Homo sapiens: one gene and its partners. The gene in region 3 interacts genetically with the main gene of each other region. Each region holds a gene or a part of one and is shown on either strand. Other genes may lie near its edges. The genes, in order: TCF25, PDCD7, MCM3AP, BOD1L1, XRN2, LTN1 and CYB5B.

What was found.
Region 1: changes in MCM3AP (region 3) and TCF25 together harm fitness less than expected from each alone (positive genetic interaction), as found in Homo sapiens cells (one large-scale study listed by BioGRID).
Region 2: changes in MCM3AP (region 3) and PDCD7 together harm fitness less than expected from each alone (positive genetic interaction), as found in Homo sapiens cells (one large-scale study listed by BioGRID).
Region 4: changes in MCM3AP (region 3) and BOD1L1 together harm fitness more than expected from each alone (negative genetic interaction), as found in Homo sapiens cells (one large-scale study listed by BioGRID).
Region 5: changes in MCM3AP (region 3) and XRN2 together harm fitness more than expected from each alone (negative genetic interaction), as found in Homo sapiens cells (one large-scale study listed by BioGRID).
Region 6: changes in MCM3AP (region 3) and LTN1 together harm fitness less than expected from each alone (positive genetic interaction), as found in Homo sapiens cells (one large-scale study listed by BioGRID).
Region 7: changes in MCM3AP (region 3) and CYB5B together harm fitness more than expected from each alone (negative genetic interaction), as found in Homo sapiens cells (one large-scale study listed by BioGRID).

What each region holds. Positions count from the first base shown.
Region 1 is NC_000016.10:89,872,412-89,876,391, reverse strand, and holds the start of TCF25 (ribosome quality control complex subunit TCF25), read right to left. Parts: upstream 2,801-3,980; 5' UTR 2,725-2,800; coding exon 2,533-2,724; intron 1-2,532. UniProt on the Homo sapiens protein: Component of the ribosome quality control complex (RQC), a ribosome-associated complex that mediates ubiquitination and extraction of incompletely synthesized nascent chains for proteasomal degradation.
Region 2 is NC_000015.10:65,127,309-65,130,808, forward strand, and holds part of PDCD7 (programmed cell death protein 7), read right to left. Parts: intron 1,863-3,500; coding exon 1,724-1,862; intron 1-1,723. UniProt on the Homo sapiens protein: Promotes apoptosis when overexpressed.
Region 3 is NC_000021.9:46,275,612-46,279,111, forward strand, and holds part of MCM3AP (germinal-center associated nuclear protein), read right to left. Parts: intron 2,107-3,500; coding exon 1,916-2,106; intron 1-1,915.
Region 4 is NC_000004.12:13,603,726-13,607,225, forward strand, and holds part of BOD1L1 (biorientation of chromosomes in cell division protein 1-like 1), read right to left. Parts: intron 3,465-3,500; coding exon 3,392-3,464; intron 1,360-3,391; coding exon 1-1,359. UniProt on the Homo sapiens protein: Component of the fork protection machinery required to protect stalled/damaged replication forks from uncontrolled DNA2-dependent resection.
Region 5 is NC_000020.11:21,341,331-21,344,830, reverse strand, and holds part of XRN2 (5'-3' exoribonuclease 2), read right to left. Parts: intron 742-3,500; coding exon 623-741; intron 1-622. UniProt on the Homo sapiens protein: Possesses 5'->3' exoribonuclease activity. May promote the termination of transcription by RNA polymerase II.
Region 6 is NC_000021.9:28,940,878-28,944,377, forward strand, and holds part of LTN1 (E3 ubiquitin-protein ligase listerin), read right to left. Parts: intron 3,028-3,500; coding exon 2,790-3,027; intron 2,460-2,789; coding exon 2,385-2,459; intron 530-2,384; coding exon 343-529; intron 1-342.
Region 7 is NC_000016.10:69,441,619-69,445,118, reverse strand, and holds part of CYB5B (cytochrome b5 type B), read right to left. Parts: intron 1-3,500. UniProt on the Homo sapiens protein: Cytochrome b5 is a membrane-bound hemoprotein functioning as an electron carrier for several membrane-bound oxygenases.

The DNA of each region.
Region 1 (3,980 bases), on a different chromosome or scaffold from region 3:
CATTCATAACCATTTAGTCGTAACTGGCTGTTTACTGTCTCCCATACTTCTGTTTATTAAGAGCTATTTAACAGAATGCCAATAAACATTTTGATTATATTATTTCCAAATATGAGTTTTAAGAGCAAAAAAGTATGGAATGCTTAAATTAAGACTGATGTGTGCCACTGGATAAAATTCTCTGAAATTCCTAAGAACACAGCACGATAAGCAGTCATTCATCCATGGAGGCTGTTAGTGTTACTGACACTCAAACTCACTCCAGAAAGTCCACAAGGGTTTGTGTGGTTTCTGACCTTACAGACTCTTACTCTGTCAACTCATGAACCACACTTTTTCCAAATTCCCACCAACACAAATATAAATACCAAAAAGATTAAATATTTAAATGGGAAAAAAAAAGCATTAAAAGAACAAGCTGAGCATGGTAGGGTATGCTGTAGTCCCAGCTGCTCAGGAGGCTGAGGCAGGAGGATAACCTGAACCCAGGAGTTCAAGACCAGCAACCAGCCTGGGCAACACCGTGAGACCCTGTCTGTAACCAAAAAAAAAAAAAAAAAAAAAAAAAAAAGCCAGGCGCAGTGGCTCACGCCTGTAATCCCAGCACTTTGGGAGGCCGAGGCAGGCGGATCACGAGGTCAGGAGATCGAGACCATCCTGGCTAACATGGTGAAACCCCATCTCTACTAAAAATACAAAAAATTAGCCAGGCGTGGTGGCGGGCGCCTGTGTTCCCAGCTACTTGGGAGGCTGAGGCAGGAGAATGGCGTGAACCCAGGAGGCGGAGCTTGCAGTGAGCCGAGATCATGCCACTGCACTCCAGCCTGGGCGACAGAGCGAGACTCCATCTCAAAAAAAAAAAAAAAAAAAAAAAAAAACTCACGTCAGGGAATATCTATGTGAAGACACTCTAGAGAGATGGATGTGTAACAATGAGAAAAGTGGCTCCAGTATCTTTCAGCACGCAGAAATTAAAGAAGTTAAAGAACAAACACAAACCGAGAAAATACGTTAGAGACAATCGATAGCAAGCTTCCACGAGCAAAAAGACTGTCCAAACCCCCTATAAAAAGGCAAAGATATAAACAGGTTGTCACAAAGAGAAATATAAATGGTCAACGAATACATAGCTAGGTGCTGCATTTCACTACCAAAGAAGTGTAAAATAAAATAATGTGATATCATTTTTCACAAATTACATTGACAAAAATTTAAAAAGACTTACGGGGCCAAGCACAGTGGCTCATGCCTCTAATGCCAACACTCTGAGAGGCCAAGGTGAGAGGACTATTTGAGCCCAGGAGTTCAAGGTTGCAGTGAGCTAGGATTGTGCCAATGCACTCCAGCCTGGGCAACAGAGCAAGATTCCATCTCAAAACAAAAAGCTTTCAGTAACTGCTGTGAATCTAGCAAATTACTGAACCTTGACGGGGGTCTTGGGGACCACTAAAGGTGGACTTGATGCGAGAAGGGCAGTCAACCAAGCATGGTGACTCACGCCTGTAGTCCCAGCACTTTGTGAGGCTGAGGTGGACAGATTGTTTGAGCGCAGAAGTTCTAGACCAGCCTGGGCAACAAGGCGAAAACTCTTCTCTACAAAAAAGAAAAAAAAAAAAAATTAGCCGGGCGTGGTGACATCCACCTGTAGTCCTAGATACTCAGGAGGCTGAGGTGGGAGGATCGCAGAGCCCGCAGAGGCAGAGTTACAGACGGAGGCCAGGGCTTAGGAGAAAACGTCACAGGACCGCATGAGCAAACCATACAGTCAAACTGTTACTTCCCTGTGCCAGAAACGAGCTGCCGGAGATGCAGCAAAGAGTAAGACTAATCCGCTGGGTTAGGCTGATGGGGATGCGCGAAGAGCAAGGCCCTGGGTTAGGCAGAGTTGTTGTGAGGATTAAAGCAGAATGCTCGCAGAGGCCTGGCAAGTCCTCAACCCTGGAACCGAGAGAAGGCCCCTCTAGACTCGAGAAAGGGAAGCCCCACCCGACTCCTGCCCCTACGCCGTGGCCCCACCCCCACGGTGGCCCCAGGCCTCATTTAACCCCGCCCACGCCATCGCCTCGCCACCCCCCCGTCTTTAGCCACGCCCTTTAGCGTCACGGCCCCACGACAGCCACGTGGCCGCAGGCCCATTTAATCCCGCCCACGTCGTGGCCCGGCCCCGCGGACGTTGGCCACGCCCTTGGCATCAAGGCCCCGCACCCTCCACAACCCGGACCCCGCTTAACCCCGCCCATTCGGTCGCCCCGCCCCGACAGCACGGCCCCGCCCCATCCCTTAGCCCCGCCCACCTCACCGGGGTTAGAACCCAGTCTAACTCCGCGGCCCGCCGTCTTCACCCCACGCCACCGCCCACCCGCGTCGCCCTGGCCCCGACGCACGGCCCCGCCCTCCCCACTGCGGCTGGGACCCACGTCACCCTTCCCACCCCTGGCATCACAACCCCGCTCCCCGACCCGGCTGGACGCTCGCCCCGCCCCACAACGTCAAGGGCCACCCCACCCCCACCCGGGCCGCCGCGCTCCTCACCAGCTCGAAGCGGTTGTTGACTCGGACGCCCTCCTTCCCTGCGCCCCCGGGACGCCGGACACCAAGCTCCCGCTTGGGCCCTTCTTCTTCCGCGTCATCGTCATCACGGAGATCGAAATGCAAGGCGCCGGGCCCGAGGGGCTCCTGGCCGCGCTGTTCCCCCCTCAGCCTCCGGAGGGCCCGGCGCGACATAGGACCGAACGACCACGACGTCTGGAGAGAGGGAGAAGGAAGCGCAGAAAACTCGGCTGTCGGCGCGCCTGCGCACTCTTCGCGCGGGGTCGGGGGCGGGGGAGCTGGCTGCGCGCCTGCGCACTCTTGGCGCGAGGGGTGGGGGCAGGACCTGGCTGCGGCGCCTGCGCGTCGCGGCTCTCCGGAACTTTCCCGCTTCAGCGGCGGCGTCTGGGCGGGCTCCGGGGGGTCCGGGCCAGGTCTCTGGAGAGCTGGGTGTCTGCGCGCCGTGCGCACCGGGCATGGAGAGGTGCCCCGCGGGGATGACGGGCTTCGATTCGGGGTAACGGGCGCGCAGCCGGCGACAGTCGGCCCTGCCCGGCCTTGCCCATCCATGTGGCCCGGAACCCGCAGCCGCGTTCTGCCCGCCGGGGCCTGTCCCCGCACCGTGCCTGCAGCATTTCAGCTGCGTCCCGGACGTTGCTAGTTGGTCCTTTTCGTGTCAGGGTGTCATTCGAGTGATCTAGCCGTCGATGCCCGCCTCTGCCCTGGAGCCGCCGCCCCTCGAGCAGCATTGAGTGACGCGGCCCTTACTGCCCGCCCGAGGCCTCTTTAGGGACAGTGGTTCTGACAGTTCTAGGACAGGCCGCCCGCGTTTGTCACGATCTAAGGGCCGGGCGCGGTGCTCACGCTTGTAATCCCAGCACTTTGGGAGGCCAAGGTGGGCGAATCACCTGAGGTCGGGAATTCGAGACCAGGTTGGGCAACACGGTGAAACTCCCTCTACTAAAAATACAAAAATTAGCTGGGCGTGGCTGCGCACGCCTGTAATCCCAGCTACTCGGGAGGCTGAGGCTGCAGTGAGCCGAGATCGCGCCACTGCACTCCAGCCTGGGCGACAGAGCCAGACCCTGTCTCAAAAAAATGAAAAAAATAAAGTAGATGAGGCTGAGACAGTGCTGGGTTCAGTGGGCGGAGGGCACAGCTTCCTGTGCCTGGGGTTGGGGACATGGGGACAGGAGGGCATAGAGAAGACAGGTGCCAGCAGCCTCCTGCCCGACTTACTGCGGCTTCATGAGCACAAGCAGCAGCCCTGGTGAGCCGGCCTGGCCCCTCCCAGGATGGGTTAGGGTTTTATTTTATTTTGTGAGATGAGGTCTTGCTCTGTTGCCCAGGCTGGAGTGCAGTGGCGCAATCTCGGCTCACTGCAACCTCCATCTCCCAGGCTCAAGCACTTCTCCTGTCTCAGCCTCCCGAGTAGCTGGGACTACAGGCAT
Region 2 (3,500 bases), on a different chromosome or scaffold from region 3:
TAGCCGGGCGCGGTGGTGGGCGCCTGTAGTCCCAGCTACTCGGGAGGCTGAGGCAGGAGAATGGCGTGAACCCGGGAAGCGGAGCTTGCAGTGAGCCGAGATTGCGCCACTGCAGTCCGCAGTCCGGCCTGGGCGACAGAGCGAGACTCCGTCTCAAAAAAAAAAAAAAAAAAAAACTTTCAGCGGTTCCCCAAAGCTTTAAGTATAAGTGAGAACTCTAGCATAGCCCATAAGACAATTTGCAACGTGGTCCTGCTTAAACATCCAGCCTCATCATTCAGCACTTAGTTGGAGGTGCACACATCTTGAAGAGAGAAGTTAGCTGCTCATTTTAAATATGCATGCAACCAGCTGCTACTTACCAAATCATTTTACATTCAAGTCACTTAATGCCACAAAGTCTGTTTATTTCTATAGATAATGATTTTCCTAAAATTTCCTCCTCCTTTTGGACCAAAGTGAGGAAGATTAATATTGGGAAATGCTGGTAAATTCACTTGGCAGAAGTTTACTGAGCACTCACCTCATAGAGGATGTGAGGTGTGGGAATATTAAATAGCTCTCAGGTTTTGCCTTCTAGTGAAAAAGAGATGGGTAGACAAAGCAGATGCTAACTTCCCTCTGATTTACAAATGCCCTGAGAGTACCACAATGGAGGCATCTGTTTCTGAGGTCTGGATGTGAATTAGCCGCTCTGAAGGCTAGTATGCAAAAGCCAATCACTTAGCTAGCAAACGAGCCTGGGTGAATACAAAATGGTCATATTCCAACACAACTTTCTTAAGGGTCTAAAAGAATCCCAGTTTTCATTTACATTTTAAACAACACATGGGAAATCATTTGTTAGAGTGGCATTTGCTAATTTGTACACTCTCAAATATCTCTGGTGAATACCAAAGGCCTACAATCTACTAAATAAATCAGCATGTGGTCCAAAGCAGGTGCAAGTGAGAAGCAACAGGAGGTTACCTCAGCCCAGATCAGGGAAGGATGAAGGATGCTGCATGTGTATTTGGTTTTGAATAGTGAGATCTTAAAATGGCAAAGATGGGACTGAGGGCCCTCCAGATGAACAGAATGACAACAGCTAAGATCCAGACAGGCAAATGGAAAGCACAATTGGGTAACTTCTAGAAAGCCAGCATGGTTGAAACAAACTTCGGTGGAGAAGCTTGAACTGCCTGGCTATAGTGTCTGGTGCTTCCTCCAGAGGCAAGAAGAGACCAGTGACATGAAGGGAAGGTGGGGAAATCCACACAGTCTGCAATCCCTGCCCTGTCCAACCATTCATACCTCTTCAAATAGAAATAATTCAGGTTTGAAATGTATCTGAAGAAGCATGCCAAGTTTTCAACACTTTCTGGAGCAACAAGTAAGGGTGAAAAGCTTTCACTCTGGCACAAGGCAAAGGTGACTAGCCATGACAAGCCCACTCAGAAGAGTGTGGCCAGAAATGCCCAGGGTAGGAATGATAAGTCAAGGGGAAGACAGTGCAGTGGGTTCCCACACTTGCCTCTCTTTTCAATCTGGGCTACCACAGGCTAAACATCTTCTGAGGCTTCCTGCTTCAGAAGTTCTGACCTACTTGCTGACAAGCCCAGTTACCCGACAAGGTGAAAATCATGAAGTTTCAAGTATTTTTCCCTCAATAATATTTGGGGTGGGAGGAGCTAGAGTAAAGAAGGGGAAGGGAACAAGGAAAGAAATGCAAAGCCACAGTTACCTTTCCTCGCTGCAGCCTCTTTCCTCAGTTTCCTCAATTTCTCCAAAGCCCGTAGAATGTCCACCATTCTTTTGGTATCTGCTTGTTTTTTCCTCACTTCAGATAGTACGCCATCAGCGGCTGCTTTGAGTTCCTGCTCCTGGAAGAGAAACAAAGCCCATGAGACCTCGTATTAGGAACAAACTTACAGCAGAGAATAGCTGCCCAGTGGTTAGATTTTAAAGGATCAGACAGTCTCCAGGTTAAGAGAGACTCTATTGAATCTCCATCCCAATTTCTTAGGCCTTGCACAACTCCCCTCTAGCTAAGAGGTTATCCCCCTCCACTGATGGTACAACCTTCATCTTAAAGGAGAACCTCTCCTCTCTGTATCTTCCACATAGCACTGGTTTTGTTTCTTCCTCAGTGTTTCTCAAAGTGTAGTGCAGAGATCAGGTGTCCAACTTACCTTGTTAAGCTGAGACTTGTTAAAAATGCAGATTCCCTAGACCTGAAGATTCAGATTCCCAGGAAGGATAAGGAATGTGGCTGGAAAGGCTGAGACCTCTACAAAGGTCTCTTAGTGACAACCTATGTTTGTGTTCCACTGCTCTAAAGTCCCAAGGATCTCTTCCACATGACAGCCTTTCAAATACCAAAGATTGCTGTCCTACTCTTGACTTAGTTCACATATAGACTAAATAACCCCAGTTCCTCAAGCCACTCCTCATAAGACTCTGTCACCAATATCCTCACCATGGAAGCTGGGCATAATGGCATGTGTCCCTAGCTATTCCTACTCAGGAGGCTAAGGCGAGAGGATCACTTTAAGACCAGGAGTTCAAACCTACAGGCTATGACAAACCCGCTGCACTCCAGCCTGGGCAACAGAGTGAAACTTTGTATTTTTTTTTTTTTTTTTTTTTTTTTTGAGACAGGGTCTCATTCTGTTGCCCAGGCTGGAGTGTAGTGGTGTGATCACAGCATCACCATGCCCAGTTAATTGTGTTTTTTGTAGAGACGAGGTTTCTCCATGTTGCCCAGGCTGGTCTGGAACTCCTGGGCTCAAGTAATCTGCCTGCCTCAGCCTCCCAAAATGCTGGGATTACAGGAGTGAGCCACTTCGCACCCGCCCCCAACCCTCTTTTTTTTTTTTTTTTTTTTTTTGAGATGGAGTCTCGCTGTTGTCCAGGCTGGAGGGCAATGGCGCGATCTCGGCTTACTGCAACCTCCGCCTCCTGGGTTCAAGCGATTCCCTGCTTCAGCCTCCCAATTAGCTGGGTTTACAGGCTCCTGCCACCATGCCCAGCTAATTTTTTGTATTTTTAGTAGGGACAGGGTTTCACCACGTTGGCCAGGCTGGTCCCGAACTCCTGACCTCAGGTGATCCGCCCGCCTTGGCCTCTCAAAGTGTTGGGATTACAGGCATGACCACGGCGCCCAGCCCCAACCCTGTCTCCTTAAAACAATAAAATAAATAAAATAAAAAGTTCACCATGGGTGGTGGAGAGAATCCTCTTGCCTAAAGTGCTCTCCCCCATCTGTCAAATAAGTGCCTGTAATTCCACCACTACAGCTACAGCCAACACCAAGCTGTTTCACTTCTCCATTTGGATTACTCTGTTTCCCTGGAACTGCACCTATTACCTTCACCTGGGTGACTTTTCCTTTAAGACTCAGCTTATAGCCAGGAGTGGTGGTGTGCACCTGTAATCCCAGCTACTCTGGAGGCTAAGGCAGGAGAATCGCTTGAACCTGGGAGGCAGAGGTTGCAGCGAGCCAAGACGGCATCACTGCA
Region 3 (3,500 bases):
ACAGTCACAGACCCTCACTGCAGATAAAAGCAGGGGAGTGTCCTCACTTTCAGCCGGAGTTTTCTAACTCCTGTAATGACCTCAATGACAAAAAATCATGGTGCAGGATGTTTACTAAAAGGATTGACTTGTAACAACTGCAAATATTCAAAATATATCACTATTCTAAAACTGTCTCAGTATTCACCATGACTTTAATATAAGAATCATATAATGGACGTTAACTGGGTTCTTACCTGAATGAGTAAACTGCTATTACACTTAAGTTACAATGTAGCTTGCAAGGAAAAGGAAATGCAACAACTTCACACTCAAAATATATACTTATTGTTTTCATGTTGAAAAATTCTAATACCTGGGCCCGGCCTGGTGGCTCACGCCTGTAATCCCAGCACTTTGGGAGGCCAAGACTGGCAGATCACCTGAGGTCGGGAGTTCGAGACCAGCCTGACCAACATGGAGAAACCCCATCTCTACTAAGAATACAAAAATTAGCCGGGCGTGGTGGCGCATGGCTGTAGTCCCAGCTACTCAGGAGGCTGAGGCAAGACAATCACTTGAACCCGGGAGGCGGACGTTGCAGTGAGCTGACGTTGCGCTCACTCTGTCATGGTACTCCACCATGGGTAACAGAGCAAGACTCCATCTCGAGGAAAAAAAAAAAAAGAAAAATTCTAATACCTAATAATAATTTTTAGAATATAAAAATCACTGTATCAATGATATGATGTTTGATGGCAGCTTTTATTACTATATGTTATTATATTAAGGAAACATGGTGATTATTCAAATTATCCACAGCTTTTAAAAAGAGGAAACTCCTATAGCTGATTTTTTTTTTCTTTTTGAGATGGAGTTTCGCTCTTGCTGCCCAGGCTGGAGTACAATGGCACAATCTCGGCTCACCGCAACCTCAGCCTCCCGGGTTCAAGCCATTCTCCTGCCTCAGCCTCCCAAGTAGCTGGGATTACAGGCATGTGCCACCACGCCCGGCTAATTTTGTCTTTTTAGTAGAGATGGGGTTTTTCCATGTTGGTCAGGCTGGTCTCGAACTCCTGACCTCAGGTGATCCACCAGCCTCGACCTCCTAAAGTGCTGGGATTACAGGCGTGAGCCACCACGCCCAGCATTTTTTTTTTTTTTTGAGACAGAATCTCACCCTGTTGTCCAGGCTGGAGTGCAGTGGCACAATCTCGGCTCACTGTAACCTCCACCTCGCCAGTTCAAGTGATTCTCCTGCCTCAGCCTCCCAGGTAGCTGGGACTACAGATGCACACCACCGCACCCAGCCTGCTTATTTATTATTTATTTATTTATTGTAGAGATGGGGGTTTTGCCATGTTGGCCAGGCTAGTCTTTAACTCCTGACCTCAGGTGGTCCCTCATGCCTCAGCCTCCCAAAGTGCTGGGATTACAGGTGTGAGCCACCATGCCCAGCCCGGCTGAAATTTAAGAGAAAAAAATTGGCTAAGAGAAGTACCTGTGTTTTTTCCTTTTATTTTTGGTCCCTGCATATATTTTTAGTGTTAATGGAATACTTACTTTTTAGTAGGTAATACATTCACACAGTTCAACATTGTAACAGTGTAAGAATGCCCTGTCCAAGACGGAGCACTCCACCATAACCTCTGCCCCTCGGAATCCCGCTCCCTCTACAGACAGGAGCCCATTCTTTTGCATCCTCCCACTACTATTTTATACATACATTAGCAAACATATTTGCACATTTATGTACACATACACGCAACACTCACTCCAAGAAGACAGGCAGACTATGAAGATCAGACACAGCATATCACAGGCTCTGAGACTCAACAGCAATAGAGCCCAATGGAAAGGAGTTGCTCCTGCCCTGATGGCACCCAAGATGACGACCTCACCAGGCCCCTAGAACCTCTGCCACCAAGTGCCATACCTTGCCGCATGATCCTGTCTCTCTGGTCAAGCAGGCGGTACTTCTCCTTGGATGTCTCAGCCACAGTGCCTATCAGGGTACTGAGGGAGAGCACACATGGCCCGAGGCCCTCGGAGCCCTCGGAGGCTGAGTCAAAAGAGTCTCCCTCGAATTGGTGGGCCTTTAGAAGACTTGGCTTCTTCACTGGAGAGCTATAAAGTAAACACCACACTGAGGGCCCTCGTCCCAGGAAGGCCTTCAGAGCATTTTCATTTCTGAACACGTCCCCTCATCTTTCAAGATTTTCTGGTCCTCTAAAGCTGAGAAACTACAAGCACTGAAATGAGATGAGTTTTGATAAGGATGGTAATGAGCACAAAAGCGTTATTCACATTACTCACTGACTTTAATATAATTTTGAAATATTTCATACTTTTGAAAAACAAAATAGCCTGGGCAACATAGGGAGACCCCATCTCTACAAAAAATTTAAAAATTAGCCGGGCATGGTGGCATGTGCCTCTAGTCCCAGCTACTCGAGAGGCTGGGGTGAGAGGATTGCTTGAGCCTGGCAGGCAGAGGTTGCAGTGAGCTGAGATTATTACACTGCTGCTCTCCAGCCTGGGTGACAGAGTGAGACTCTAACTTACCACCCCCCGAAAAAAAAAAAAAGATAGGCTCATTTAAACAGCTAAAATGAACACTTACTGATTTCTATTTCAAAGAAATAAACTCAGCATGAAAAAAGTCTTTAATATCATAAGGAAATATTAAGCCTACATGTTTTAAAACAGAAATTATTTTGGTAGAAGGACATACTAAAAGGAATCAGGCATTCTCTCTCAGCTTCCCCATTTTCTAGCTTTCATCATTTTCTGAACTTGAATGTCAAAGATTATGTCAAACCAGCAACTAAACTGCTCGTCACAAAACGGAAAGTGAGGAAAATACATTGGCCAAAAGATGAAAAGATGGATTCAGCCGGAGATCTGTCAAAGTAGGCCTGGTGTGAAAAGCAAAAGCCTTTGAGAACAGAGTTCCCCAGACAGACAAGGTAGCCAGGGCACTTCACATCACATGCCGGTTAACACAACTAACATGGCCGACCGTGTCTGCTTCACTGTGATAAGCTGCACCTGCAAAAAGTCATGCTGCCCTTCCTTTAGGAGACAGCCTTTTTTTTTTTGAGATGGGGTCTCGCTCTGTTGCCCAGTCTGGAGTGCAGTGGCGCAATCTCGGCTCACTGCAAGCTCCGCCTCCCGGGTTCACGCAGTTCTCCTGCCTCAGCCTCACAAGTAGCTGGGACTACAGGCACCTGCCACCATGCCCGGCTAATTTTTTGTATTTTTAGTAGAGATGGGGTTTCACCATATCAGCCAGGATGGTCTCAATCTCCTGACCTTGTGATCCGCCCGCCTTGGCCTCCCAAAGTGCTGGGATTACAGGCGTGAGCACTGCGCCCGGCCAGGAGACAGCTCTTCAGGAAAAAAAAAAAAAAAAAAGTAATGCTGGAAACTGCTGAAAGTGATTATTAGAAATGCATGGTTTGGCCGGGCATGCATCTCTAGTCAGGAGTTCGAGACCAGCCTGGCCAACATGGTGAAAC
Region 4 (3,500 bases), on a different chromosome or scaffold from region 3:
ATTACCTCTGGCCTTTTCATGACTACTGTCAACTTCTTTACCATCCTTGTCATCTGATTTATTTTCGTCCTTCTTTTTTATGTCTTTACTACTATGCTTTAAGCTTCTGCTTTTGTGGCCATCTGACAACTTTCTCTCAAGCCTGGTGGAAGTGGAGTCTTTATCACTCTTATATTTCTCCTTTGCTAATGGTAACTTGGCTCTATGACTAGAATCCTTCTGTGTACTATGTGCTGAAGAAGAAGCAGTCTCTAATACAGGTTCAACACCAGTTTCTTCAAAAGGTTTGTCTTCAACTTTAGACTTACGCTGTTTTTCTGAGTCATTTTCTTCTGTGTTCTTCTCCTTGTCTGGTTTTGGAGTGGTTGCCTGTTTTGTGGCACCTTCTTGTAATTCTGTTTCTACAACTTTTACCTGTTTGCCTTGAGTTTTTGATTTAGACTTCAACACAAGTTTCTCTTCTAACAAGCTCTTTGTTCGTCGTTTCTCCTTGTGAACAACCTCTTCTGGTTTCAAATTACTATCCATGTTAGTGGAGTCCATATCACACTTATCTTCCGAATAACTTTCACTTCTTCTCTGTAATGTGATACCATGTTGCTTGGAACCCAGAGAATCTTTCTGAATTTTAGAATCACTTGACCTTCTTGATTTGTGCTCTGCCTTAGTTTTTTCAGCTGACAAGCGTCTCTCTTTTTTGTTGTTTTCTTTACGAACATTCTCATCTGTTTTTATAATATATTCAGAAACTGGCTTTCCATCTTTGCCTAATACTGATAATTTCCTTTCATTCCTATGTTTACTTTTTCGTTCGGTTTTATCATCTGAAGAAAGCTTTGTTTGTTGACTTTGCTTTTGAATATTTTCCTCTACTTTTAAACCTTTCTCAGAAGAGTGAAGCTCAGTCTCATCACCTGTTTTATGCATACAATCACCTTTATATTTATGTTTCACAGACAATTTGTCTTCCGATGGAGTTTTCTCTCTTTCAGGCTTCTCCTTGGAGGATTTCACCTCTTTCTTAAGTAGGCTTTTCAAATGTGGTGTTTCAGAATCATCTTTCTTTAGATGCTTTTCGTTTTTAAGTGTGCTTTTCTGTTTCTGGGGCTCTTCGGTGCAAATTTCTGAGCGTTCTACTTGCCTTTTTACATCTCTTGTGTCAGTCTCTTCCTGTACCCCCTCCATGATAACAGGGGTAGATGTCCGTCTTTTATGTTCTCTTTCTAATTTGGATTCATTTTTGTTTTCGTCAACTACATGCAAAGACTCTGAAAGTCTCCGGGCAGGTTTACTTGGTTCACTTTTTGCATGAACATGCTTCAGCTCCTTTGAAGAAGAAATTTTTTCCTTTTCACAATGCTGAAAGAAAACAAAGGTTAAAATATGAGAAATACCAAAATCAATTTTTAGATTAAAACATAACATTTGGGTGGATTTAATATGTTGAGTGCTGTCACATATGTAACATCTCACTTAATTCTTACAAACAGCCTGTGTAGGTGTCAAAAACTCACCTGATTTTAAAAAATAAGTATTATTAACTTGATTTTAAGAAGCTAAATTCTTCAAAGAACTAACAGGAGTTTGCAACAACCATATTTTACAATAAAAAAACTAATTCTAAACAATATGAACAATTTTATGAGATTATTTCTCATAGAGATTTATCACAAAATAAAGTTAAATACTTAAAAATATGCCATTAAAACATCAGGAAATTGTAGCTCAGCATGATTCTATAACTTGACACTCAGACCACAAGTAGGTGTGTTAGGAATGAGTTTAGATTATTTCATTCCGAGTCTAGTACTCCTTCCAGTATATCACAGGCACTGATTTGTCTATGAATTCTTCAATTCTGAATCACTAGAACTCACTAATGCCCAGTACTCAATAATAAATATGAGCTGAATAAATGACAGTCAAATGTCCTTTTCAGTCAAAAACATAATACATGAAGGCAATTTAAAATTGAAATATACTGAAATATAGATTTCCTATATTTTAATTTAAAAAGCTGAATTATGTATGGAAACCTCATGAATTTAGGCTACTTGTACAATATTCTACACATGAAGCTTCAAATGTACACAATAACGCACAGTAACCATATCATATATAACATATGTATATGTTTATGTATTCAAAAAAAGATACGGAGAGACAAGAGCATCTAAACCTTCCTTCTGGCCCTGTGGTTTGGCACTAAGTAGGCGATTAATATTAATGAGTGGAGGTTGACTAAATCCACTTCAATAATACTCACTGACTACTAGCTATAATTATTCTTATGCAAATAATGGGCCAAAGTTCAGACGGACCTTTGTGCCTCTAGGTCAGTTTAACACTTCATCTCCTTAAATGTCAACACAAAGATTAATGTACTTCTACTAATAACAGGGTCCAGGACATAACAAGACCTTATTAAATAGCTTAAAATAAAATTCCTCAAAGAACTAACAGGAGTTTGCATCAACTTCACAATAAAAAACTAATTCTAAGCAATGTGAATACTATTTTATGAGATAATTTCTTATAGAGAATTATCATAAAAGAAAGTTAAATATTTAAAAATATGTCATTAAGCCATCACTATATACTTCTAAATACGCCTTTAATTTCTGAGTAAATAAATTAAATTTATGTTTGCTGATGATGAACAAATAATCACTAACATTGCTTTTTCCCTCTGGAAATATTAAGATAGTTTAGCTACAGAACTACAGATAATGTGGTTTTTGTAAAAAAGAATTTTAAAACAGTGAAAGCAAAAGTTTGTCCCACGAAAATAATCCTGAAAGGGGGAAGAAAACATTGTACGTTACTTTTACTGTTTAAAATGATCAAATCTTGGAAACAACCTAAGCGCTAAAATATAAGGACATGCTTAAATAAATTATGGTATGTACATTATATGTAACACTAGACAATCATTAAATAATTAGGATGCCTAGAAGGTAACATGAAATGAGTAAAATGTTAAAAACAGTTTGCCAGATTACTTGTACTCTAAAAAATTATGTGGACCCGTGGATAAGGAATGAGAGGGAATAAAAAGGATAATTTGTTATAGTGGAGGGATTTTAGATTTTAATTTTAGCCTCCCTTTTTCTTTTTTTGTCATTACTGGCATTTTTGTTATTGCAATTATAAGAAATGGGAAAAGAGAAGAAGAGTAGCTATTACCTAGATAAACGACAAATATATAAATCAACTCAACAAAATGGGCAATTTGGGACATAACAAAATGGGGTTTCAAAAATGCTGAATGTAAGTTGACTTTTTATTTGACTTGAAAAAAGTCAAATTACATTCTAAGTTTTACTCCAAAGGAATAAACAGCCTATATCTAACAAAACAGCATTTGAAATGAGGTTTTATTAAGGCATACCTCACTTGTTTTAAGGGTTTCTTTGGAATCTTCTTCATATTGCTGTTTCTTTTTGGAGTTCTCTTCAACATTCCTAAGGGGGAAAGAGTCAAATATAAAGCATGAATCA
Region 5 (3,500 bases), on a different chromosome or scaffold from region 3:
TGTTAATCTTATTATATAATGATCTCAAACTTCAGGATGAATTAAAGAATCAGCTTCCTATTTTAAATTTGAAGTATACAGTTAAAGGGAAACTCCTCTGTCATGAAATATAATTGCGCATATGCAAGTCTGTGGTTTTTAAAAAACATACATATTGATCTCTTAACAGAATGATTTCTGCATATTTCATTTTGAGGAAGAACTCTTTCAATAGAGAAGATTAAGGCAAACTATATTAAGTGTCTAAGTATAACTGAACTTTCTAGGTTAAGCAGCTTGAAAATTTAATCAGTCTCCAAACAGCAACATTCAGATCACATAGTCAGAGCTAAACACCTAGATATGATATCTAGCCGATCTTGTGCCTGGTCTCAGAGGGAAAAGTGGATTGGAGGACGAAAGCCTGCACGCATACTAATCTAGACACTTAGGTTTAACAGCTACAGCTTACACATCTCACTGGAATTTACTGACTATTCTAACCCTCCACATTAATTACTGATGGATAAAAAGATCACAGGCAAGCATCTGAAGGCACTGCTGCTCTAAGCTAAATAGCATTAATTAGACTGCATCTATTTCAGCAATTTGCTAACAAAGTGCTACCAAAAAATGGCTTCACCTGACATTATCCTCTGGCTCAGGTTCACTGTCACTGTCTTCTGCTTTTCGCTTAATTCCTCCTAATGGAGACGGGGAGCCATCAGATGTGAAACTCGTATTAGGAGATATCGAAGGACTCTGCAGACAATGATGACATTACAGAAGAAGGATTTCATTATTCATTTTACATAAGAAGGTACATCCAACCACCACTACTTACCATGTTTCACAGTAACATTTTTAAAGCTACTACATAGAGATGGTAAACATATTTAGAAGGTACAGAGACTGATCTTGCTCCATTTCACTTCCCCTCAAAAGAAGTAATGTAATACCCAAACTTTCTATGCTTAAACTAAAAACAATTAACATTATTAGGGCAAAAAAAAAAGTTTCTGAAGAAAAAAAAAGTTTTAATTTTATAGATTTTTAAAAATTATAGTACTTGAATTTTATTTTCCTTTGGTGGTTCACAATCATTTGTGACAATCAGTTGTAACAATTCCTGTTAGGAATTCACAATCATTTGCCACCTACCAAATGGCAAAGCTATGAGGGGAAAAAATTATGTGATATATAAAATGCATTACATATATAGCATATAATATATAATAATATAGATGTAATAATATATAAAATAGTCAATGCTGGTGAGAATGCAGCTAAATGGTTAAGTCTTCAACCTAGTACAACCACTCTGAAAAGCAAGTTTAATAAGACTGTGTTAGATAACTTAAATTACTTTATATGTTCAGTTTTAAAAATCAATCAACAAATAAAAATCTATTAGTCATCTTAGAAAAATGCAGATTTTATTGGTATTTCAAAGACTTAGCTGTCACTTTAAATTCAGTATTATCTTCCCTTTGTACCTAACTCAATTAACATAATACGTTAATTTTAATTAACATATTTTAATATAACCCTAACATATTTTAATATTTAAAAATTAAAAGAAAATGTTCTGCAACTTTAGTTACTCAAGCTAAAGGACCACATCACCAAAAACATAAGGGGCAGAAACATTTCCACAGTCAAGTTTTTCTTCTGTTACTCACAGTATATTAGCTATTTCAAGTAAACTGAATTTTTTTTAAACTGAGAGCACAGAAGGCCATTTGAATGATATAATAATTAGAGTATCCACAGCATAAACACAGTTCATACCACAGGTCAAGAAAAGTTAAAATAATACGAAATCATATTTCACATAGAACTTAGAGCACATCTCTTTTAAAAACATAATGTCAATGTTATTAATGAAAAGGTACAGACAATATTGTCAAAAAAAAACCCAATAAAAATAAATACAGGAAGGCACTGTTGTACTTGGAAAACGAGGCAGGTATTGTTGTATTTTAGTCATACAGATCTGAGTCTGAAATACCAAATTCAACCTTTACTGGCTGTGTGGCCTTGAACAATTTATTACTTAACCTCTGTGAGCCTCATCTTAAAATGGGGATGATAACGTTCTGTTTCCTTACAAGTTATTGCAAGGATTAAATGCATCAATACATGTGAAAGATTACTGGCATGCTGCCTACATGGTACATGGTAGTTAACCATTCAGTAAGTAATCACTATTGTTTTTTCAACCCTACACTAATCCATTTGTATTAAATTATGAGAGTGACATTCCCATTAACTGTCTACAGAGAAGTTGTGTAAAAAGCAAACTTTAACAAAATTAATTACTAACAAGATATAAACTCTATCTTTAGAAAACAAATAATAATATACTTTCTAGAAAAAAATGCTGTTCACCATTTAATGCTAAATCTCCGCTGCTGTCTCTACCAACAAAAATATTCCCTTGTGAACATACCAGATTCATATTAAATTCAAATTTCTTCTTAAGCTGTTTTTTTCATCAAATTAGATATAATGAAACCACACTGAAGAACGCTAAATATAAAACCACAAATATAAGGAAATGGAAGCTATTTAATAAAACACTAAGAATGTTAATCATCAGTAGATAAGTATTAGAGACTACAACCCAACAGCTCAGAAAAATAAAACACGAGAAATCTGTAACTTTAATGGCTCCCTTTAAATAAACTGGTAATTTGACTTCAAAATTTCCTTAAATTTAGAACATTCTAGGTGAAAATCCCACTCTGCAAAGATTCGAATTCCATACCTCCTCTATATAGAAATAATTGTGGCAAGGGAAGTTAATTAAGACAGAATCAAAGAAGCAACCTCATCACCAGTCTCCCCATTACTACTCCTATGGCAGATGTTATCGATCTACAGTCTGGTCCTGTGGCCTAATACTACCGGGCCTGAAGATAATACTGGAATGCTTCCTGAAGCAACCACAGCTGGCAAAGTTTAAACCTGCCTGCCTCCCAAGATTTAAAAAAAAAAGTACTCTACCATCAACAGGGCATATAACACCACCAGTCACTCTCAGTTCTGCTCTGCGGGGATGGTAGTCACTAAAATCTTGAATGATGGGCATCAGCTATTTCTGTTCCATATGAGCATCAATAGGATAACTAACAGAATAACAGAAATTAAATATCCAAGCTTATTCAATTTCCTTGGATATATCATAGCAAAAGTGTATGTTCCTTCCTCTACTGTTAGATCAGGGTCTGTTCCCTCAGCCCTGTTGCTGTCCCACTGGGTATTCTGAGAGCTCATGGTCTATTTCCACTACAATAGGAAGGTGGTGGACAAAGTACAGCCTTGCAGGATAGGTTGATTTGCTTCTGGAGTTTGGATTACCAAGTTCAAATATGGAAGAATACCACAAGGCAAATAAATGCATGCAGTTGCTGAGTTCACAAACAGGGAGTAACCAGTAAGTGCTACCTTAAGATATTTATTTAGATCTATTCCATGCTGAATTGGAGAGCCAGAGTTTACACCTAAGGAATACTATT
Region 6 (3,500 bases), about 17 Mb from region 3:
AGGAGTTTGAGACCAGTCTGGGCAACACGGTGAAACCCCATCTCTACAAAAATATAAAAATTAGCCAGGCATGGTGGCTTGCACCTGTAGTCCCAGCTACTTAGTGAGAAGATCGGTTGAGCCTAGGAGGCAGAGGTTGCAGTGAGCCGAGATTGTGCCACTGCATTCCAGCACAGGCAACAGAGTGAGACCCTGTCTCAAATAAACAAAATAAAATAAATTTTAAAAGATGAGATTAAAACATAAGGATTTTCCTTTTATTAAACTGAAAGGAAGGTATTTAGAACAGTATCAGAAGCATATTAGGACAGAACTATCGAAAGTTGTCACATATTTATTTACCTGTGATGATGCAGCTTTGAAGAAAGTTAGTATTAATTTCCAAGTGAGAAGGTATCCCAGAACATAACAGAAGTCTTCACTCAGTGGTTTAATAGTAACTATCTGTCCAACAGGAATACACCCCAAAACATTTTCTAGTAAGTCCTCTTGAATGCTAAGAAGAGACATCAGTGCTGCTGGTGGTGACCTAAGAATCAATGATTAAACACCACAAGTTTTCTTTATAATTCATTCCTTAACAAATTGACAGTACTTGTAAACTTCAAGCATTTTAGAAAAATTTCTCTGTTTTCCAAAAAACGTTTTAAAAATTCCCCTCTATTGAGCCAATTTTAACTCCTAATCTCACATAACAGTAAAATAAAAAAGACATATTATAGCACTTGAAGGAAAGACATTTTTAGAAAACGTCTCTTTCAATTTTCTAAGTGAAAAAAAATCACACACCCAGAGAAGCCAAATGATGAGTCCAACGTCTTTCAGTTAGTAGGGGAAACTGTTAGGGATTCTAAATCCTACCCGGCCTTTTATCATCTTATAAAAGACAAAGTGAAGATTAAGACTTCGAACTTTGTCACTTCATTCTAGTTTCTATTTTATTGCATATTATCTACTTAGTACTATTAAGAAATATCACAATGATACTATTAATCGGATAAACACAGAAAATAATTATGTGCCTGTTTAAAAAATCATGATTGTAATCTTTTTAGGAAAATAAATGTACCATTCAGATTAATTCACAACAATGTAAGTTAATTTTCTTCTTTATTGAACTACTCTACTCATTTATACTTTCAGGTGAACTTATGAGATTCTCAAAAAGTAAAATACTTAACTCTCTTCTCCATGATACTCTAGCCTGGTTCTCTCCTTTCACTTCTGTGATCGTTCTTCCCTTGTGGCTTCCTTCTCCCAGCCCACAAGTACAGGCCTTCTCCAAACTTCTGCTCTTAGGTCTTTTCCTTCAACACCTCCATCTCATGTACCCAGCCTTCTATATTCCATACTGATAGTCACTAGATCTTATAAAATACCAGCTCCAAAATCTCTCCACTTTTCACATTGCCCTCCATGCATTGTTATTTAACTTCTGCAATCAGCTCCACCTCTGCTTGCTTCTTTTTACAATTCATGTTTCACATTAGTGTCAGAATCGGCTGGTGGCGCCCTATCTCCTACCAAGTAATGACCAAATCCCCCCAAAAAAGTCATTTTTAAGGCCATTTATTATAGGCCAGGAAGCATTCTGGCCTACAGCATTCTAGCCTATTTCTCTCTCAGAAATAAGAGAGAGAAATTCCTGCCCTCACAGAACTTACATTCCAGTAAAGAAAGATATTATCAATAAAACTATACATTAAGTGGTAACTACTCAATATTCCCCAAGCACATCCTCACATTCATGACTCAGTGCCTTTGTACATGATGTTCTCTTAACTTATGTTGTCTTTCCTGTCCTGCAGAAATGCTACCTAACCTTAAAGGTCCAGTTTAAATGCCTCTTCCTCAAAAGAAAGTCTTCCCTTCCTGATGTACATTAATTGTGCCCTCATACATGCTATCTTATATAGGCCTAACTGACCTTTAAAAAAAAGTTATCTATCCTTTTTCTTAGCACTTATCATATACTATATTTTCCATAACGCTACAGTATCATCTGTATCAGATAAATTCCTTAAGGAAAAGAAAGTGCTCACTAAACACTGCATATTCCCCTCAGCATTTAATTAATACTCTGCACAAAGTGGATGCTCAATAGATACTTGAACCGATACACTCTTTCCACAGCCACCATATGGCCAAAGATAGTTTTACTGAACAGTAGCAAACGGAAAATGTGATTTAAGAACAATTAAGAGAGTGACACAATCTTTTGGGTGAAATCTATATTTCATTTATATCTTACAGATAACTAAAAAGATCTATCTGTAGAATGAATATAACTCTATAGCTTCTGTGCTGCTTCAGTCCTCTAAAGACATTATAAGTGAGATGGATTATAAGAATTTAATAAAACAAATTATTTAAAAAAACCTTACAAGGCTGGCTCTTCTTCTTCATCTCCGTATGACTTTAGATTATCCTGATCATACTGTGGTAATTCAGGCATCAATCTAGAAATTAGAACATTATTTTTAAATATGTGATATTAAACTGTTTATTAAGTCGTGCTCAAGAGCAGAAAGACCAATACTTATTTTATAATGAGTAAATGTTTTAATGAGTTTTCTTTAAAATAACTACTATAGCCAGGACTATTGAAATATAAATTGTGTATAGAGAACAATAACCTAAAAGATGAGGCAACTTAGGGTCCCTATAAGTGAAGCAGTCAGATCTCCTTCTTTTAAAAATTTTACTTTAAATAATTAAAAGTAAAAACTAAGCATATATTCTATTTTTTTAGACCACTGTAACATTGATTCAATTGGATGAATTCTTACTTGTATAGCATATGATAAACAGCAATTTGCACAGGCCTAGCTCTGAAGAGGAGTAATGGGGCCAATGTATTTAACAAAGTCTGGAGATATTCTGGTAAGTTTGTTTTTTGGTCAGCAACTAATCTTGCAGGAAGTTTGTGACTCAATAGCTGTTCCTTTGAGATATACGTTAATGTTTCACACATGGGTTTCAGCATTGCATTCTGAAAGGATGTTTCAGACACATCTTTGTTTTCTCCTAATGACAAAAAGGAAAGAAACATGCACGTCTCAAAAGAAAGTTAGTATAGCTTAAATGATTCACAAACAATCAAATGTCATTTAAGAAAATGAAATAAAAACTAGACATAAACAATAAAGCAGTCTTAACTAGAAACATGAACTGAATATATATTCCAGTTAATCTCAACTGTTTTAATGACTTTTATCTGATCCAGCAAATGTTCAATAGCAAGGTTCTATTCACATCATCCATTCATGTTATCTGAAGTATTATTATTTTAATTTGCAACAGTCATTGGATACCTTGCCATTTTTCAATTTCTGTCTGTAAAGTAAAGCATAGATGATGCTTCTGAGAAGCCAAGCTTTCTCTTCTGGCTTTTTCTTTTACTATTTAGTATTATTTGATTTAAACATCAAAATTTTTGCTTTTGAATTTTTCAGTAAGTCATTTCCAATGAATCAATCTCACTATTATTCCCTTTTTCA
Region 7 (3,500 bases), on a different chromosome or scaffold from region 3:
AACCCAACTATTGTGTTGCCTTTCAGAGTAAAAGGACAATAAAACTCCTTCATAGATTACAACATTTCAGGGAATGACTGAATTTTTGACTTGCTACACAGTTCTTTCTACAAGTACTTTCACTTTCATCAGTCTCTCACCACTTATAAACAAGAGAAAGCACAACACTTTTTTAAAATATTAAGTAAAAGTTATATATTCGCTGTGGTAAATTTGGAAAAAAGAATAATCAACTAGAGTCCTGGAACAGAAATAAGTCCAGTTAACAATTTGGTGCATAAAACTTCATTTTTCCTGTGTATTCTTTCAATCATTTCAGCCATTAGTCTACAATTTTTTATTGAATCCTTACTATTTTGTGTGGTAGGCAGTGATAAATAAAAGTTTTTTGTGTTCTCACAAAGTGAATTCATGTAGTACATAATGTTTTGTAGCCTGCTTCTTTTTTTTTTTCACTGAAGCAAGTGGGGGTCAGAGTGATCAAACAAAATTCTACGGTTTAATAACTTTCACTCTAAAATATGGTCTTAATAGAGATGGCTTAGAACAAGCAAAAAGACGTCAGGGAGCTTTTGGTTTCTGTTTAGAACTCTATAGTCTCCAGATAGAGTTAGCGAAAATCAAATGGATGCAGGGCTGCCATGGGCCACTGGCAGCCCAGCTGGAGGAGTTGGAATCACTGCACTAGGCCCGAGGCTATAGCAGGGTCCTGGCCAGTCTTAGGCCAAGATAATGCCCAGGCTGAGGAGCATACGAAGGCCTCGACGAAAACCCAAAGAGCCCCGGCACCCCAGGAGAAGCCAGACCAGCTCTCAGTGAAGACAGAGGGTAGGAGCTACTGTCCAACTCCAGCGTCAGCCACTGGATGGTCCCGCCCATGTTTATCATCTGCTTCTTCTCAGATATGATCTGCCACTACATGTTCATCCTGGTACAGAGCGACAAGAAGCTCACCCAGGAGCAAGTATCTGACAGTTAAGTCCTAATTTGAAGCAGAGCCTTCAGTGAAAATGGAAATTACATTCCCAAAAAGTCTTTTTCTTGACATGAGAATATTACATCAACAACCCAGAGGATAAAAATATCACCACTTCCTCCCACTATGCTCTCAGGCATGATGAAAGGAAATATAACAAACGTCATCCCTATGATTCTTACTTGTGAATGGATCAACATTGACATACTCAGGCATTGTTGCAACCAAGGTCCTATTTCCACTGACCCTCTGTTTTTTGTTGTTGTTGTTTGTTTGTTTGTTTGTTTTGAGACGGAGTCTCACTCTGTTGCCCAGGCTGGAATGCAGTAGCACAATCTCGGCTCACTGCAACCTCTGCCTCCCAAGTTCAAGCGATTCTCCTGCCTCAGCCTCCCAGGTAGCTGGGACTACAGGTGCCTGCCACCATGCCCAGCTAATTTTTGTGTTTTTAGTAGAGACAAGGTTTCACCACGTTGGCCAGGCTGGTCTCGAACTCCTGACCTCAGGTGATTCACCCGCCTCGGCCTCCTAAAGTGCTGGGATTACAGGCATGAGCCACTGCACCCGGCCGACCCTCTGGTTTTAAGCCTATGCTGCAGCAAGTTATCAAACTACTCACATTAGATCCACCCTGAATGAGCTCTGCATCCTGGTATTTCCTCAACGTATTTGGGCTTCAGAGAATTTACTGTGATTCTAGGCCAAGATAATGGCAACTGACCAATAAGAAATGAGGCAGGAGCAGATGACCAGAGCAGCCATGGCCATGCCCACAGAAACCAGCAAAGCTTCCAAGACAAAGTAGAAAGTTCTGGAGCTGATGGGTCACCAGTGGACACCAGATGATGTCAAAGAGCTCATGGGCAAAGGCCTTCACTTTGAAGTTATGTTCAAAAAGGAGTTACAAGACCAAGTGCCATGGCTCACGCCTGTAATCCCAACACTTTGGGAGGCTGAAGAGGGCGGATCACTTGAGGCCAGGAGTTTGAGACCAGCCTGGCCAACGTGGTGAAACCCTGTCTCTACTAAAAGTACAAAAATTAGCTGGGTATGCTGGCGCTCACCTGTAATCCCAACTATTCGGGAAAACCACTTGAACCCGGGAGGCGAAGTTTTCAGTGAGCCACAATCGCACCACTGCACTCCAGCCTGGGCAATACAGTGAAGCTCTGTCACAAAAAAAATTTTTAAAAAAGCCTCTATTTTTTGAAGACCAAGTAGTAAAAATTAGCTCTGCCAGAACTTGGAGTAGTCCTTAACCTGCTAACTTGTGTTTGAGCTAGAGACTCTCAGAATTTAAAAAAAAAAAAAAAAAAAGGATAGCTAGGCACAGTGGCTCACACCTGTATTCCCAACACTTTGGGAGGCCAAGGCAGGAAGATTGCTTGAGGCCAGGAATTCAAGACCAACCTGGGCAACCAAGCAAGACCTTGTTCTCCACAAAAAAAATTTTAAAAATTAAAAAATTATCCAGGCATGGTGGCCTGTAGTCCTGGCTACTCAGGAAGCTGAATTAGGAGGATCATCCAGAAGCCAAGGAATTCGAGGCATGGCGCCACTGCACTGCAGCCTGGGCAACGGAGACCCTGTCACTAAAAAAATTAAAAATACATAAATATTAAAAAGTAAAAAATAATAATTTAAAAAGAAAGATATATGAGCCGCTGAGCATGCAGCAAGGATCATTCTTATCTGAGCCAGGTTTCCCTTTATGCCTGAAACTAGAAAAAATGCAGTGTGTGTGCTGGATGATTTACAGGGAAAGAGCCATTTAAAAAATGTTTTACATTTTCCTTCTGGTGACTCTAGAAATGAGAGGCAGAGAAAGGGGAAAACTTAAGCTAGCCAAAATATAAACATTTACCAAAAATTCAATCTTTGAAAAAGCATTATTATTTTCTGAAAGATTTCATGTAAACAAAGAAAGAAAAAGCATTATTAATTATAACTAATTATTATATGCAGTCTGACTTTTAATCACAGTAAGCTCCTATTTTGAGATCCAAGCACCCTGCATTTTTATATTTAATTGTTAGTATTTTTATAACTTTCTTTACAAAAGTAATAATTTTCATTACCAAAAATTTAGAAACTATAGATAAGCAAAATGAATCTCCCTGTATTGTTCATTCTGAGCCTACAGGATGACATGAAGAGCAAATACGTGAAAACTTCATTCACACAAACTCTTTTCAGACAGATTATCCAGGGCCAGGAAAAGTAGCAAACCTTCTATATATTTTAATACTATCCAGGGAAAATTAGTGACCCTGACATACTGCCAGATCTATTTCCCATCTAGGGAACTTTCAGGATCATCAAAGACAGGTTAAGTAATGGGAAGTTCTTGATCTAGAGTTGAGAATATTATCAAACCCACTGAAAAAAAATGAGTTTCTATACTGTATATGTCCAGTCAGTTGAACTAAAAACCCCAGATATTCTAGATAAGAGTTTACATAACTTTTTAAGAAGGCAGAGAGATCAACTGCTGGCAGACATCTAGGTGAGGGTTGCACAGGAA